Regions from separate parts of the Homo sapiens genome. Here region 1 is linked to region 2. Evidence: fine-mapped expression QTL. A gene starts in region 2. The other region holds a variant in brackets. All regions are shown on one strand. Distances are between the middles of the regions. Region 1 overlaps GREP1 (glycine rich extracellular protein 1). Region 2 holds the start of PAQR4 (progestin and adipoQ receptor family member 4).

What was found. PIP is the estimated chance that this variant, and not a neighbour inherited with it, causes the effect.
Region 1: its variant is the best candidate, but not a certain one, in a credible set for the expression of PAQR4 in cerebral cortex (GTEx, PIP 0.67).

The regions. Positions count from the first base shown.
Region 1 is chr16:2,993,395-3,001,702 of GRCh38, forward strand. GREP1 (glycine rich extracellular protein 1) reads left to right here. Exons shown (of 29, transcript NM_001396456.1): 12 at 1,304-1,333; 13 at 1,412-1,444; 14 at 1,533-1,568; 15 at 1,890-1,922; 16 at 2,225-2,260; 17 at 2,345-2,377; 18 at 3,102-3,137; 19 at 3,279-3,311; 20 at 3,659-3,691; 21 at 4,409-4,441; 22 at 4,962-4,994; 23 at 5,100-5,129; 24 at 5,454-5,585; 25 at 6,508-6,549; 4 more. The coding sequence ends at 8,192. Among named protein-coding and RNA genes, the nearest start is that of GREP1, 9.3 kb to the left of the region's middle. RefSeq lists enhancers at 326-827, 2,147-3,119, 4,787-5,287, 5,288-5,788, 8,086-8,308. The variant C/T (reference allele first, on the strand shown) is at 4,797.
Region 2 is chr16:2,965,998-2,974,305 of GRCh38, forward strand. PAQR4 (progestin and adipoQ receptor family member 4) reads left to right here and starts at 3,351. Exons shown (of 3, transcript NM_152341.5): 1 at 3,351-3,843; 2 at 5,160-5,381; 3 at 5,518-7,487. The coding sequence starts at 3,678. The coding sequence ends at 5,951. It overlaps KREMEN2 (kringle containing transmembrane protein 2), which reads left to right. Exons shown (of 9, transcript NM_172229.3): 3 at 143-234; 4 at 328-452; 5 at 645-798; 6 at 913-1,245; 7 at 1,323-1,448; 8 at 1,529-1,607; 9 at 1,813-2,383. The coding sequence ends at 2,023. PKMYT1 (protein kinase, membrane associated tyrosine/threonine 1) reads right to left here. Exons shown (of 9, transcript NM_004203.5): 6 at 8,248-8,308; 7 at 8,003-8,160; 8 at 7,141-7,218; 9 at 6,811-7,067. The coding sequence ends at 6,956. RefSeq lists enhancers at 1-54, 2,333-3,322, 2,776-2,855, 5,605-6,421 and silencers at 3,116-3,535, 3,566-3,735, 3,746-3,795, 3,826-3,945, 4,216-4,355.

The sequences.
Region 1 (8,308 bases), 27 kb after region 2:
CAGTTCGGGAGGCAGAGTTAGGTGGATCAATTGAGCCCAGGAGTTCAAGACCAGCCTGGGCAACATTCCCAAGCTGGTCTTGAAATCTTGGGCTCAAGCAATCCATCTACAAAAAAAAAAAACCTAGCCAGTTGTGGTGGCACGTGCCTGTAGTCCCAGCTACTCTGGAGGCTGAGAGGTGAGGATCACTTGAGCCCAGGAAGTCGAGGTAGTAGTGAGTGGAGATCTTGCCACTGTACTCCAGCCTGGGTGACAGAGAGAGATCCTGTTTAAAAAACAGACAGGCCGGGCTCAGTGGCTCACGCCTGTAATCCCAGCACTTTGGGAGGCTGAGGCGGGTGGATCACAAGGTCAGGAGATCAAGACCATCCCGGCTAACACAGTGAAACGCCGTCTCTACTGAAAATACAAAAAAATCAGTCGGGCGTGGTAGTGGGCACCTGTAATCCCAGCTACTCGGGAGGCTGAGGCAGGAGACTGGCGTGAACCCAGGAGGCGGAGCTTGCAGTGAGCCGATCGTGCCACTGCACTCCAGCCTGGGTGACAAAGCAAGACTCCGTCTCAAAAACAAACAAACAAACAAACAACAACCAAAGTAATCCGTGGACCATGCCTGTTCTGAGCCAACCAGGTGCTGGGGACAGGCCCTCCCCAACCAGGGCCACGCTGGGGCATACAGTATGGGCTGAGGCTGCCCCAGAGCTGGGCTCTGGGAGTTCTTAGGAGGCAGTGGAGGCCAGGGAGGAGAGAGTGGCCCAACCCTCTGAGAAACTGAACCAAAAGGAGAGTTTTGAACAAAGAAGGTACAGGCTCCAGCAAGATCTCAGACCTGGCCAGGCGCAGTGGCTCACGCCTGTAATCCCAGCACTTTGGGAGGCCTAGGCGGGCGGATCACTTGAGGTCAGGAGTTCAAAACCAGCCTGGCCAACATGGTGAAACTCCGTCTCTACTAAAAATGCTAAAAATTAGCCAGGCGTGGTGGCGGGCACCTGTAATCCCAGCTCCTCAGGAGACTGAGGCAGGAGAATTGCTTGAACCCGGGAGGCGGAGGTTGCAGTGAACCAAGATCACGCCATTGCTCTCCAGCCTGGGCAACAAGAGCGAGACTCCATCTCAAGAAAATAAAAAAAAGAGCTCAGACCCAAGATGTGGCAGGAGCTGGAGCTTGACAGTTGGAGGCTGCTGAGGAAAGGAACCTGCCTTTCTGGCTCGTTGAAGTTGGGGGTGGGGACACCCCTGCCCGAGGTGGCTGGAGATGGCATCCAGGGCTCCGGAGGGCCTTAACCCTTTCTCTCCTCCACAGGCCCCACCACTCAAAATGGCTATAGACCAGGTAGGGGCGGGGCTGGGGTTTGGGGAGGCCCAGAGCTGGGGCCCCAGGTTCCTCACCTGCTCCCTGTCTCTCCACCAGGCTATGTGGGGGCCGTCAAACCCCAGAAGCCAGGTGAGCCCTGCCCCGGCCTGTCCCTCTGCCTCCCCAAAACCTGAGCTCCCTCCCCTCATTCATACCCCGCCTTGATCTATTCCCCCAGGATTCCAGTACAGAATTGGGCTGGGAGCCCAGCCAGGTGAAGGGGGTACAGTCTGGGGTTCCAGGGTCTGCATCTGGGCGGCCTCTTCCTCCCAGGGGCGGGATTGGTGAATGATGGAGAGGGGTGACGGGGCGTCTCCAAGATCCTTGGCTTCTGGCTTGGCCCTGAAGGGGAACCATAGGCGCTGTGTCCCCAGCTTAGCTCAGCCCTCCCACCCCGACAAGCCCCCCACCTCAGAATGGCCCTGGAGCAGGTCCTGAGGGGGATGGGAGGAGCTGGGGTCCAGATGCTGGGGTTCTGGGGTGGATCTGAGTTGGGGGCTCCTAGGTACCTCATCTGCTCCCCATTTTCCCAAAGGCTTTAGAGGGGACATGAAGGCACAGGAGCCAGGTAAGCCTGGCTCTCCCGGGCTTCTGTCTCCCCAGTGTTCAGAGCCCCCTTCCCCCTCTCACCCCCACCTCCATCTGTCCCCCAGGATTAGGGAATGGGAATGGGCTGAGTGCTCAGCCAGGTGAGACAGATGGGGTCTGGGGTTCTACCCCTGGGGCGTCCTCTCCCTGCCTCCCTTCCCAGTCTCATGGGGGGCTGAGCTGGTGAATAACTGAAGGGCTGCTGGGAGGAAGCCTCCAGGATTCCCTTACCTCCACCTCAACCAAACCCCAAATCCCCACCCCACCCTCCTCTCCCCATAGTCTTGACAGCCCAGAACCGATTTGGATTTGGAGCAGGTAGGAGCAGGGGTGGGGAGGGGCTGGGGGAGAATGTGGGTGGGGCCCCTGAGTCACTCACCAGCCCCCCTATATCTCCTCCAGGCCTTGGAGGGAATGTGAAGCCTCTGAAGCCAGGTGAGCCCCGCCCGCCCTGGTCTGCCTCTCTATGCACGAACCCCTGAAGCCATAAGCACTCTACTCATGCTCCCTCCCTCTCCAGGATATGGGAAAAGGCTGAGAGCAGGGGCCTTCCCTGGGGCTGGAACCCAGCCAGGTGAGGACACCTGGGGTAGGAGCCCAGGCTTTTTTTTTTTGAGATGGAGTCTTGCTCTGTCGCCCAGGCTGGAGTGCAGTGGCGCAATCTCGGTTCACTGCAACCTCCACCTCCTGGGTTCAAACAATTCTCCTACCTCTGCCTCCCAAGTAGCTGGGATTACAGACACCCACCACCGCACCTGGCTAATTTTTGTATTTTTGGTAGAGACAGGATTTCACCATGTTGCTCAGGCTGGTCTCGAACTCCTGACCTCAGATGATCCACCTGCCTTGGCTTCCCAAAGTGCTGGGATGACAGGCGTGAGCCACCGCACCGGGCTGAGCCCAGGCTTCTTAGAGGGAAGGGGGAAGACAAAGATCGGGCCAGGGGGCCGGGAGGGCAGAGTGTGGGTCTGAATCCTGGGGAATTAAGTGCCACTGGCTGGCCGGATGTGGCTCTGCCTCTGTGTCTCTCTGTAGGCCTGGGAGGGGGAGCCAGGCCCCCTCCCAGGGCCCTGGGCCCCCGCCCTGTCTCTAGGGCTGCGTCCTCCTGACACCCCCTCCGAATGCCGCCGTCTCACACCCTCCCCGTCCCTCCCCCTAGAATATGGCCATGGAAATGGACCGGGAGTCCAGCCAGGTGAGGGCAGCTGGGCCTGGCTCGCGAGGGGTCGGGAGGTGGGACGGGAAGAGAGAAGCTGAGGCCACAGGGACAGAGAGCTGGGGTCTGGGGATCAGCAGCACTGGCTGGAGTTGATGTCAGCCTCTCTGTCTCTCCCAGGCCTAGGAGCGGGGATGAAGCCTCAGATGCCAGGTGAGGGGACTGCCTGTGTCTGTGGCCCCACCTCCCCTAGATCCTGGTGTTCTAGCTGGGTCTGCGTGGGACTCCCAGGGGAGGGGTGACCCCTGCCTCATGAGTGAGGGGAGGTCTGTAGGAGCACCGAGGACCGAGGGGAGAGGAGGTTGGGGAGAGACTGAGAGCCCCCTTCCTGGCCCCTGCCTCCCTGTCCCCCAGTGGCTCAGCCTTACCACGTTCCCTTTTTTGCCCCACAGGCCTGGGAGCTCCAAACGGCTATGGACCAGGAAGGGGCAGGGCTGGGGTTCCAGGAGGTCCAGAGCGGAGGCCTTGGGTCCCTCACTTGCTCCCTTTCTCTTCACCAGGCTATTTGGGGGTTATGAAGGCCCAGAAGCCAGGTGAGCCCTGCCCCGCCTGTCCCTCTGCCTCCCCCAAACCCTGAGCTCCCTCCCTCATTCATACCCCACCTCAGCTCCATCGGCATTCAGGAGGGGGCTGGGAGCCGAGCCAGTGAGGGGGTGTCGGGCTGATGTCCCTGTCTCCCTCCCAGGCCTCCAGAGCAGGTGGACACCAAAATGAGGGAGGAGAGGTGGCGCCAGGATCCCTGGTTTCTGACTTGGCTCTGAAAGGGGATCCAAAGGCCCTTCGCCCTCTCCTTAGCTAGAATCCCAAACCCCCTGCTCACCCCTCCCTCCCCACAGGCCCCTTAGCCCAGAATGGCTACAGAGCAGGTACTGGGGGGCTGGAGTTGCTGGGAGTGCAGAAAGGAGGAAAGAGGTGGGGGCCTGGCTCTCCCCTGACCCTGTACTGAGGGTTTTCTTGGGGGCTCCTGCAGCCTTAGACGGGGTAGAGTCTGGAGAGGAGGCGGCACAAGGGGGAGGGAGGTGCTGGGAGCTCCAGTTCCTAAATTGGGAGGAAAGGGGGGCCAGGCTCCAGCCCCCTTCTGTACCCCAACCTCTCCCCATGCCGCCCCCACAGACCCTGCAGTTCCCACTGGTCATGGACCAGGAAGGGGAGGTTGGCATGGGCACCAGGTGGGGGACAGATGCCAGGTCTGGAAGAGACCCCTCAGTGAGGAGTGGGCATGGGTCCCTCACCTACTCGCATCTCTCCAGGTGCTGGAGAGGGCATGAAACCTCAGAAGCCAGGTAAGCCCTTCCCACTCCTCACTCTCCCTACCTGCAGAAACTGCCTACCCCTCCACCCTTTTCCCCTCCCAAGCTGTACCCTGTCTCCCCATGGTGCAAGAACGGGCTGGAGCTGGAGCCTTCCTGTGGGAAGGAGCCCAGCCAGGTGAGGGAGGTGGGTGGGACCTGGAGCAGAGGGGAAGGAGGACAGGCTCCAACGGACAGAGTTGGGTCTCAGTGGGGGAAGGGGTGGGGTGGGGTGGGCCTGTCCATTATTCTCCATGGGTCTCTGGCCTGGGAGAGAGCCAGAAACCTCCAAAGCCGAGTTGCTCTCTGCCCCTCTTCCTGCCTTCTCCAAGGTCCCCCACTCCAACCC[C/T]GCCCTCATGCCCTGCTCTCCCTCCCAGGATACACACCAGGGACCTGGCTGGGGCTCCTGCCAGGTGAAAAGACGGGGCTAGGGGGATCAGCAGGGGAGAGAGGGGTTCACTACACTCCTCGGGTGGGCTGATGTCTGAACTGGCCTCTTTCTGTCTCTCCCCAGGCCTGCGAGGGACCTTGAAGCCTCAGAAGTCAGGTGAGTGGGGGACCCCTGGCTCTGCCCCACACCTCCTTCTGCCTCTCAGCCCTTCTAGCCTCTGCCCCCAGTGTTGCCACACTCATCTCTGCTTTCCCTCTCCAGGACACGGCCATGAAAATGGGCCCTGGCCAGGTGAGGCCACTGGGACCAGGGGTGGGGGCCCAGGAGGAAGGGAGAGGGAGGCTGCTGGAAGACGGAGGGGCCTCCATCAGGAGCCCCATCCCTGCCAGATCCCTACATCCCTCTATCCCCTGCCTGGATCCCCAGGTCCCCCCAGGAGAGTGTGGACCAAGGGAGCTGGGCTTTTTCCAGCCTGGCTAATGTCCCCCTAAGGTGCTGGGTCTGCCCTAGAAGCCACTACAGGCCGGTGGCTTGGCCAGGCCAAGGCCTCCTGGGTGGCGTCGGTGAGGACTGGCCTGGAGCATAGCCCCACCCCTCCCTTCCTTCCCATCGTAGGTCCCTGCAATGCGAGGGTCGCTCCGATGCTCCTCCCCAGGCTTCCCACTCCAGGGGTCCCTTCGGACAAAGAGGGTGGCTGGGGCCTGAAATCCCAGCCCCCTTCCGCAGTGCAGAATGGCAAGTTACCAGGTCAGTGTGGAGTGGGGGTGCCTAGGGGGCACTGGGAAGCACCTGGCCCTATGAGGGTCAGGGCCTGGCTGCCATATCCCACTCTGTCCTCGGATGCCAAGGCTCAGAGAGGGCAGTGACTTGTCACACAGTGATCTGCTGAGGAGAAGCCTGAACTCTGGCCCTGGGACCCCATGTGGTCCCCAGTATGGGAGTCCTTTCCATCCCTGCCCCATGGCATCTGCAGTCTCTCAAGCCCTCGGCTGGGCTCACTCCTGCCCCTAACCTTCCTCCTAGCACCAATGCCAGCCATCCAGTGGGGACTGAAACCTCAGAAAGCAGGTGTGAGTCTGTCTGCCCCCAGGCCCCACATCCCAGAGGGACAAACTCTCAGCTAGGTCTATCCTCTGTCTCCACCCCAGATCAGGGTCACCCCTCCATCACCCTTTTTCCCTAGGCTGCCTAAGCTATTCAGGCACCCGAAGGCCAGGAAGTCCCTCCCCGAGTCTACCCTCTTGCTCTTTTTTTTTTTTTTTTTTTTTTTTTGAGACAGTCTCGCTCTGTCGCCCAGGCTGGAATGCAGTGGTGCAATTTTGGCTCACTGCAAAATACGCCTCCCAAGTAGTTGGCATTACAGGCACGCACCACCATACCTGGCTAATCTTTGTATTTTTGTAGAGTCGGGGTTTTGTCACATTGGACAGGCTGGTCTCAAACTCCTGGCTTCAAGTGATCAGCCCACCTCAGCCTCCCAAAGTGCTGGGATTACAGGCGTGAGCCACTGCGCCCAGTCTCTTGCTGCTCTCCAGATTTCTTCTGGTTCCATTCCCTGTGGACAGGAAAAGTCTCTGCTTCCCCTTCAGAGTCCCTAAGGTCGATCTTTGGCCTCCAAGGAGTCAGGGGAGACCTGGGTCCCCCGCACTGACTTCCTTTCTCCTCACAGGGCACCAGCCTCCAAATGGCTATGGACCGGGAGCAGAACCAGGTGAGGAGGCCCTTCCTGGAGTTCCTCCCCTCCCTTCCCTTCCTCTTCCCTCCTCTTCCTTCTGCCATCCCAGGAAGAGGGGAGGCCAGGGCTGTGGCTCTCGCTGACCCCCATCTCTGAGTCACAGTTTTCTCTCCCCCAGGTTTTAATGGTGGCCTCGAGCCACAGAAAATTGGTGAGTCCTCCTGGGCCCCCGACCCATGTTGAGCGGAAGCTGGCATCTCCCTCATGCCTGAGTCAGTCTGTCTGTCCGCATCCCCCTGTCTATGAGCTGGTCACCTGGCCCTCCTGATGCTGTCCCTGTTCCACTAGCCTGTCCCTAGCTCCTCTCCAATCTCTGTCCTGCAGGTTTAGGTTATGGGAATGGTGTCCTGGGAGCCAGGGTCTTCCCCGAGGCCCACCCACAGCCAGGTGCCTGGGGAGCAGGGGTCGGGGTGGGAGAGTTGGGCTCAGGGCCCCAGCCCAGCCTCTGACACCCTCTTTCCTCCTCCAGGGTTCCATGGGGCCAATGGTTTTAGGAATAGTGAGTCAGACCCAGGGGACAAAGTGCAGTGGAGTGGGGGAGACAACAGCCCAGGGGCTAGGCGGGAATGACCAGAGTCTCTTGGAGGGGATGGGGTGGAAGCTCTGGTGTACCCCAAAGCAGCAGCTCTAGCCCCTGAAGGAAATGGTAAGAAATGAGCCTTCTGGGAGCAGAGCCAAGCCCAACAGGGGCCAGGGGTCCCAGCTCCTGTGGGCAAGGGTACCCCTGCCAGCTCTCCTCCCCACAGGGCAGGCCGGGGTGCTGTGGAACTCTCGCTGGCCCACCCTCCAGGCCTGGGGGGCCGGCTTGAAGCCTGGATATCAGGCTGGAGATGAATATGCTGAGGCCAGGAGCCAGCCAGGTAACGGGATGCCTGGATGAGTGTGTTGGGGCCATTAGAGGTGGCTTCAGGGAACTGGGCCCTGGGCCCAGGTCTACCCACAGCCCCACAGAGATAGAAGGTACAGCCCTCTTGGCGGAGGGGATGGAGTGAGTGAGAAGAGGCCAGGAGGGCATAGGCAGGAAGGAGCAGGAAGGAATGGAGCTGGAGGAGAGGCCAGAAGAGCCCGGGACCCTGAGAGCCAGCCCAGACACTGGACCAAGAAGGGGAGGTGATGGAGTTGGGAACGAGGGCCATCACGGACTCAGTTCTCCATACTCTGTCCCTCTCCCCCCGGTCCTCTGAGAAACTGAGGCAGAGCTGAGCCCTGGGCCCTCCGGGGAGGGGGTGTCTCCCACAGCCTGGGTTGAAGCTGGGGTGGACGGAAGCTCTCTGGTGACCCGAGTGCTCCTGGTCTGTCTGTCTGTGCCACAGGGGGCCCCGACGTGAAGAGAGGCAGCAATGGCCAGCTGGGGAATGGCTACGGAGGTGAGAGGGAGGCGCAATGGCCGAGCCGCCTGCCCAAAGGCCCCCCGTGGTCACCCCTCCAGCCATACTGGGGGACACCCAGCCCTTGGGAAGGATAGCAGGTTCTGCCACCTGTAGGTGGCTGCTGAGTGACTGACCCCAGAAGCTCAGGTCCCTGGGAGGGGAGGAGGGGGCAAGGCCTCACCAGGGCCCCGCCCCTCCCTAGCCCAGCTCTATGTCTTCCCAGGCCGCTGCCCTCTGGGGAAATGCTGAGCACTGCAATGCCCCTCGCCTGCCCAGCAAGGAAGACAGACCCTTGGGCTTGGCCTCTGGTGCTGCCTGGCCGGGGGTCTCCTCCATGCTAGAACCACAAACGTGCTTCCCTGCTT
Region 2 (8,308 bases):
AATTTGTGGGTGTACAGCAGGCAGCACAGCCGCTCACAGGCACAGAGCCTTGAAGGCCACTTTGAGCATAGGCTGCGGGGCCGGGCCTGGGTTTGCTATTCTTGGGGTGGTGGGAGCCCCACCACCTCCCTCCCACCCGCAGTAACCCAGACGGTGACGTGCAGCCGTGGTGCTACGTGGCTGAGACAGAGGAGGGCATCTACTGGCGCTACTGCGACATCCCCTCCTGTCACAGTGAGTAGCGCGGCTGGACAGAGGTGGGAACGCTGCTGCATCTGGGAGGAGGGTTGTTTTCGGAGTCACGGAAGTCTGACTCTGCCCCCTCAGTGCCAGGCTACCTGGGATGCTTTGTGGACTCAGGGGCACCCCCAGCCCTCAGCGGCCCCAGCGGCACCTCCACGAAGCTCACGGTCCAGGTGTGCCTACGCTTCTGCCGCATGAAGGGGTACCAGGTACTGCTCACGGGCCCAGACCAGTGACCCCTGACCTGGACCTAAAGACCACACTCAACTCCCAACACTCGGTTGCCAAACCCAGACACCGGTTTCTGAACCTCCAGCCCGATTCCCACCCCGACCCCAGGCCCCCACCACTTCACCCCTACCCCAGCCCCTGCCCTGGGGTCACCCAGTCTGTGCTCCCAGCTGGCGGGCGTGGAGGCCGGTTACGCCTGCTTCTGTGGCTCTGAAAGCGACCTGGCCCGGGGACGCCTGGCCCCCGCCACCGACTGTGACCAGATCTGTTTCGGCCACCCTGGACAGCTGTGTGGCGGCGATGGGCGGCTGGGCGTCTATGAAGGTGAGGAGTGGGCGGGGACCAGGGGCCTGGGCGGGCCTCGAGGTGGGGCCTGGCCGGGCAGGGGAGCCGCCGTGTCCTGGTCCTCAGGATGCTGACTGCCGGCCCCGCCCGCAGTGTCGGTGGGCTCCTGCCAGGGGAACTGGACAGCGCCTCAGGGCGTCATCTACTCCCCGGACTTCCCGGACGAGTACGGGCCGGACCGGAACTGCAGCTGGGCCCTGGGCCCGCCAGGCGCCGCGCTGGAGCTCACCTTCCGCCTCTTCGAGCTGGCCGACCCGCGCGACCGGCTGGAGCTGCGCGACGCGGCTTCGGGCAGCCTGCTCCGCGCCTTCGATGGCGCCCGCCCACCGCCGTCCGGGCCGCTGCGCCTGGGCACTGCCGCGCTGCTGCTCACCTTCCGAAGCGACGCGCGCGGCCACGCGCAAGGCTTCGCGCTCACCTACCGCGGTGAGCCTCAGCTCGGCGCGCCCTGCCCGCTGTTCCCACCCCGCTCTCCCCACCCCGCCTCACGCCCCTCTCCGCAGGGCTGCAGGACGCCGCTGAGGACCCAGAGGCCCCCGAGGGCTCGGCCCAGACCCCCGCGGCGCCCCTCGACGGGGCCAACGTGAGCTGCAGCCCCAGGCCTGGGGCTCCGCCGGCCGCGATTGGGGGTGAGGCGGGCGCGCGGGACGGGAGTGAGTCAGGGAGCCGCCCCCTCGCGCCCATCCTCACCGCAGCCGTGTGCCCGCAGCCCGGGTCTTCTCGACGGTGACGGCTGTCTCGGTGCTGCTGCTGCTGCTCCTGGGGCTGCTGCGTCCGCTGCGCCGACGGTGCGGGGCGCTGGGGCAGGGCCTGAGGGCGGACCGGTGGTGGGGAGCTGGAGCCCCAGAAGGGAACAGAGCTAGGAAGGAACTCCTGGGTTCTTAAGGGAGCGAGGCTTTGGGTCCACGCACAGGATCGCGCGCGGGATCGCAGGTAGAGCAGGACGCTGCAGCGGGATTGGACCGGCTCGGCTGATGTCTGCTCCCTCTCTAGGAGCTGTCTGCTGGCTCCGGGAAAAGGGCCCCCGGCGCTGGGGGCTTCCAGGGGCCCCAGGAGAAGCTGGGCTGTGTGGTACCAACAGCCCCGAGGGGTGGCCTTGCCCTGCTCCCCCGGGGACCCCCAGGCTGAGGGTTCTGCCGCGGGCTACCGGCCTCTGAGTGCCTCCAGCCAGAGCTCCCTGCGCTCGCTCATCTCCGCTCTCTGACTCTGGGCCCCGAGGGTCCGCTGGGCCCGCCGCCGGCGAGATGGACACCTGAGATGCTGTGCTGCGCCCTGCCTCGGCCTTGCGCCTGTGTAGGGGCAGCTCGGCCTCTGGTCGCCTTGGGGAGACCAAAAGTCGGACAGGAAACATCTGGTGCTATTATCTGGGACTTGGCCTGACCGTGGGGGTCCAGATGGTCCAGGCCCTCTCCATGGACCTGTATGTGGGGGTGGTCTCTGGTTTCGGAGGTCTTTGAACCCCTCTGGGGGTGGTCCTGGACTGCCGTCCTCAGTGAGAGGTCACAGGTCAGCAAAAACAGTCAAAAAACCCCCACAGATTTTGAATAAAGGATCTACTTTGGTACGGGCCTCGAAAGTTCTTCCGTGGTGGGAGGAGCATGTTAATGACCATACAAACGCCGAGGGTTGCGTGTGTCCATGCAAATGAAGGGCGTTGCACGCAGACTTTGGTGGAGCTGCCTGGAATGCAGAGAAGGACCTAGAACACAGACAGATGGGTGGGTGGGTGGAGTCCTGTAGAAGGCGGGGGGTGGAAGGGGAGGAGGATCGTGGGCAGCGTTATGCTGAATAAGGGGTGCCTTCCCGGTCCCTGCTCAGGGTGGACGGGGCGGAGGTCGACTTTGCTCCCCTGGCCTCCAATCTGTTTCCTGTCTATCCTCGGTAGGGCCCCGCAAGGGTGCTCCTTGTGGGCGATAACTGGGAGCAAGTTGGGCCGGGCCCACGCTCCGAGAAGCCTAGCGCGAAGGATAGGGCCTCTCCCGACGGCTGCGGGCGCGTGAGGCACGCCTTCAGAGGCCTGGGTACCGTGGAGCGCCTTGCTGCACTCGGGAGTCCAGCCTGCGGAAAGATCACTTTGGAGCGGGGGCGTACCGGATGTAGGCCGGACCCGTCCGGCAGCACCTTGGACAGAGCCCCGTCTGCAGGGTAGGGCTAGGTGGCAGGACTATGCCCCCGAGGGTGGGTGCCCAAAGGTACGGAGACCTGGGTGTCACGCGGAAAGCCCGGATGCACAGTTCTGAGGGACGCGAGGTGCCAGGGTCACTCTAGCGCAGCCCGCAGGACCCAGAACGTTGGGTCGCAAGCCCACAGCCACCCCATGCAAATGAGGCTGGGAGCGCGCACACTATGCTAGGAGGCGAGGCCTGGGCGGCCTCGGGGCGGAGCCTCCCCGCCGGCCACGCCCATTGGCTCTCGCTGCGCCGACGTCAGGAGCCCGGCGCGCGAAACGCTGGCCGGCCGGCGGGAACTAGGAGCCTGGGCGGAGCCTGGCGTCCCCTCCCGCGTCCGGCCGCGCCCGTCCTCCTGGCTGCAGAGAGACTACCGGCCACCGCCGCCGCCGCCGCCGCGAGCTGTCCCTGCGGCGCGTCTGCCTTGGCGGAGCCGACCGCAGTGCGCTCAGGCGTCCGGTGCGTCCCCAGCCTCCGCCCCGGCGCGGGGGCGACGGACTCGCGCGTGCGCAGCGCCGGAGGGGCGCGGGCTGGGACCCCCTAGCCAGCGCGTGCGCCGATCGAGCGCAGGGCGATGGGTGGGCGCCGGGCGCCGGGCGCCAGGCAGTGATGGGCCTTCCCGCGCTGCGGCCCCACTGAGGAGGAGGCTCGGGGACAGCAGGAGCACGGGCTGCCCGCGCGGTGCGGACCATGGCGTTCCTGGCCGGGCCGCGCCTGCTGGACTGGGCCAGCTCGCCGCCGCACCTGCAGTTCAATAAGTTCGTGCTGACCGGGTACCGGCCCGCCAGCAGCGGCTCGGGCTGCCTGCGCAGCCTCTTCTACCTGCACAACGAACTGGGCAACATCTACACGCACGGTGAGCCGCGTCCCGCAACGCGCTTCCCACACCCCCGGCCGCCCTACCTGCGTTGGGCCGGGGGCACTGAGGCCGAGGAGGGCCCCAGCGCCCAAGTCCAGGGCTGCCCCGGCCCTGGCACCGCCAGTAGCCGCGGTGACAAAGCTGCCATTGTCCCGGGCCGCGCTGCCAGCTTCCGTTTTCCCGGCGGGTGGGGGCCGGGTCAGGAGAGGGGAGCAGAGTAGGGTCTGAGCCTGCTTAATCCCTCTGAGCCCCAGGGGTAGGGAGCATGGTGTCCGGCCTCTGTAATCCCAGCGCCCTGGGAACCCCCTCCCGCCAGCACCCAGCCGGGAGATGGTGTTGACTGCGATGAGGAGGGCCCGGGAGGAGCCTCCCAGCGCCGCCGTCCTGACGCCCCCGCCCCAAGCCGCTCTGTCTTGGGGCTCCGCCTGGTGGCGGCTCCTTCTTCCCCCAACAGGCGTCCGGCCCCTCCTCCGCGCCCCGCGGAGCTCTGCTGACACAGCCCTGCCCGTCCTTGAGCTGCCCCAGGCGGGCAAGGGGCCCTGAGCGGCCTGGCCCAGCCTGGGTGCCTTTCCCGAGCTTTTGCCAGGCCACATTCTCACAAGGGTGGGCAGCCTTCGGAGCCCCGTTTGGCCCCTGGGAGGCCAGTACTAGAGGCCGGCAGGGAGGGGTGGAGACCTCCCAGAAAGGGCTAGGCTGGAATCAAACTCCCCAGGGAGAGGTCTGGGGAGATGGGACAAGCCCCTCGAAGCCCCCTTCCCTTCATTCTGGACTTGTCTTCCCCCACCTGGCCTCACCCCTTTATAGAAGATAAAAAGGCCCAGTGCCTCCATTTGTCTGGACACTTATGGAGAGGGGAGGACTTGGGTTGGGAAGAGCAAGCCAAGTGGCCCCGGGCTGGCATCACTGCTCATGTGTCCTCTTCACAACTCAACTTGAGGTTTCGCTGCCTTAGCCTTCTCCTGTGACCTGCTTGTATGGGGAGAGCAGTGTGGGAGTGGGACGGCCTAGGCCTGTCCTCTGCCATTGCTTACCTGCTGGGCTCACCCGGGGCCGGTCACTCAGCCCCTCCAAGTCTGTTTCCTCACCTGCAAAGTGGGGATCATGGTCTCTACTTCCCAGACCATCCTGAGCCATGATAAGTAACCAGTGCCAAAAGCCTTTTGCCCAGGGCCTGTCTCTGGCCAAGGCCAGGCCGCCAACTGGATGACAGCATTACCTGGACCTGTCTTGCCCTGTCCTGTGTTGTGTCTGAACCGTGGTCCCCTTGAGGATGTGACTGAAACTATCTGGTAGATGACTGTCTCCCTCCCTAGGGCTGGCCCTGCTGGGCTTCCTGGTGCTGGTGCCAATGACCATGCCCTGGGGTCAGCTGGGCAAGGATGGCTGGCTGGGAGGCACACATTGCGTGGCCTGCCTTGCACCCCCTGCAGGCTCCGTGCTCTATCACCTCTTTATGTGCCACCAAGGGGGCAGCGCTGTGTACGCCCGGCTCCTCGCCCTGGACATGTGTGGGGTCTGCCTTGTCAACACCCTTGGTGAGTCAGGGCCCAAGGGATGGGAGCTGGAGCCACCGGCGGGAGAGGCATGGGGCACGCATACAAGCCATGGGTAGGGAAGGGCGGGTGGACCCTCACAATGACATGCCCTCTCCTGTTCTCTCCTCTTGTGCAGGGGCCCTGCCCATCATCCACTGCACCCTGGCCTGCAGGCCCTGGCTGCGCCCGGCTGCCCTGGTGGGCTACACTGTGTTGTCGGGTGTGGCCGGCTGGCGTGCTCTCACCGCCCCCTCCACCAGTGCTCGGCTCCGGGCATTTGGATGGCAGGCTGCTGCCCGCCTACTGGTATTTGGGGCCCGGGGAGTGGGTCTGGGTTCAGGGGCTCCAGGCTCCCTGCCCTGCTACCTGCGCATGGACGCACTGGCGCTGCTTGGGGGACTGGTAAATGTAGCCCGTCTGCCCGAGCGCTGGGGACCTGGCCGCTTTGACTACTGGGGCAACTCCCACCAGATCATGCACCTGCTGAGCGTGGGCTCCATCCTGCAGCTGCACGCCGGCGTCGTGCCCGACCTGCTCTGGGCTGCCCACCACGCCTGTCCCCGGGACTGAGCTGCCATGCCAGCCTGCCCACAGCAGCCTCCTAGAGTTAGCAACACCAGGTGTTCCTCCCAACTCGTCTGCAAGGGGCTGGCTCCTTGGATGCTTCCAGCTCATGAGATGTCTCAGCAGGAGCCCTGTTCACCCGTTCTTCCCTGTGGACTGACCTCTTCCACCCACGCCGTGGCGCTCCAACTTCCTTCCCTGCCTTTTCCCTCCAAGCTCCTATTTTACTGTGTCAGCTGGAAGGAAACCTTTCCCTCTTGGGACCTCTTTACCCTCTGTGACCTGTGGGGTTAGACCAGAGAGGGACTCTGGGGTCACGTCTTGCTCTGAGAGTTCAAGTCCTGCCAGGCCGCCAGCCCAGAGCCTCCTCACCCTATCCTGTTCCTCCCACCAGGCCTGTGGCCAGTCTTCCTGATCTCCATCTTTCTGCCCTGCATACCAGCCCTCCCAGCAGCCACAAGCTTGCCCGCCCTGGCTCCCTCTGCCCAGAGACTATGGAGTAAGGCATTCAGGACAAAAGGACCAAGGGGGCGTGGACCCGTCTTGTACCAGCTGGCCACAGGCACAAGGGCTGCAGCTGCTTCTTCCAGGAAACTGACACAGGGAGCTCAGCGGCCTCAGATCCTGGGACCCCTGGGCCGTGCCTGCCCTCCACCTTGAGTGCCATACTCCCAACAGCTCCAGGTACCCACCGGGGGATGTGCCTGCTCAGGAAACCTCTTTGCTCCACACAGCATGGGGCTTCAGCTGCTGGCCCAAGGCCAGGAGCGCTGGGTTCTGCAGCAGGGCTCAGCCTCAGGGGCGTTAAGACCCTGGATGACATCAATAAAGGGACAGGAAGGGCCATGTTGCCACATGAGCAAGCTTGGGTGCTCCCAAGGTTCAAATACTTTTTATTAGACACGGCCAGGCAGAGAAGACCATGGGAGTTCCCGAGGGGCCCCAGCTTTCAAGGGCGACGGGAGAGACACAGGATAAAAGGTTAAAAGTGCAGAGGCAGAGTCTGGGGCTCAGGTTGGGTCTAGGGTGTCCTCAAACAGGCTGAGGAGGTTCCGAGGCTCAAAGGAGGGGAAGGAGCCCCGAGGAGGCTCTGAGTTGATGTCACTTAGGTCCAGGGCATCCCTGGGAGGAGAGAGTAGTGACACTCAGGATCCAAAAGCTAGCCCTGCCCACCCCAGCCCCTGGACCTGCTTACCTGGGTGTGCACCTGCTCCGGGGGGTGGAGGTGCTCCCCACAGTCCGGGCCAGGACAGCCTCAGGGGAGAGTGAAGGCCTGCAGGAGGGCAGGCGAGACAAGGAGGGTGTCCAGGGCTAGGGAGTGCCGGATGAAACCAGCTCTGTCCCTGTGCAGGCTCCAGGCTCCCGCCTGACAAACAGGCAGGGAGCCACAGTCAGGGACAATAAAAACTTGGTGCACTCTGAAAGCAGCACTTGGACAGCCTTCAAAGTCCTTCCATCTGGCTGCACTCCAAGGCCCCCTCTGTCCTTTTCAGAACACATGGACTTGGAGGCAGATTTGAAATAAACTTTTAGTAAATGTAAGCCTTTCTGGAACTTCTTGTCTGCTATCAAGTGCCCCGAGGGATGAGGTGATGTGTTTGTAAGGAAGGGGCTAACGGCAGAGTCCCCAAGAGCTGTCTGCCCTGAGCGTGTGGTTTCCTAATTACAGCCTCTCACTCAAGACACCAGGCCCCAGGGACCAAGGACTTGTTCCCAGGGCAGGGCTCCCCAGACTCCAGAGGCTTTCTCTTCCCAGAGAAGGGACAATGTTTTATCCCTGGGCACTGGCAGCCTCCACTGGGGTCGGGGCTGCGCGGCCAGCCACTCCCTGGGGTGCTGGTGCCCTAAGTGTGAAGCCATGCCCTGAACGGCCAGTCCACATGCCCAGCTGCATTAAGCCTGGCCAGGCCACACACCCCCAGTCTTGGTCCCCTTCCCCAGGATGTGATGGGGGCCAGGTTTGTGGGAGTGGTCCCCATTCACCACGAATCTCCATGGAGCCCCGGTGATATCCCCCACCTTCCCCCTAGCCCCCCATACCCTGCACTTGAACCCACCCTAGGCTGTCGTCATCCCAGTTGCTGGAGAGGCTGCTGTCCAGGAGCAAACTGCAGGGTGGTGAGCCAGGCGGGGTGGCTGGCGGGCCCAGGGGCTGTAGCCAGCTGGCAGGGTGAGCCAGCCCATGCCAGAGCCAGCAGAGCAGGGCAAGCAGGGCCTGTGGGGGAGAGGAGCTCAGGATGTGGGTGGGCGGACCCCCGGGGCTGGGGAGCAGGGCAGGCAGCCGCCACTGTCGGGAGCTTACCTGCCACAGGGCCCACCCTCGGCTCAGGGCCTCCGCTGCCATGCACCACAGCACACCCCAG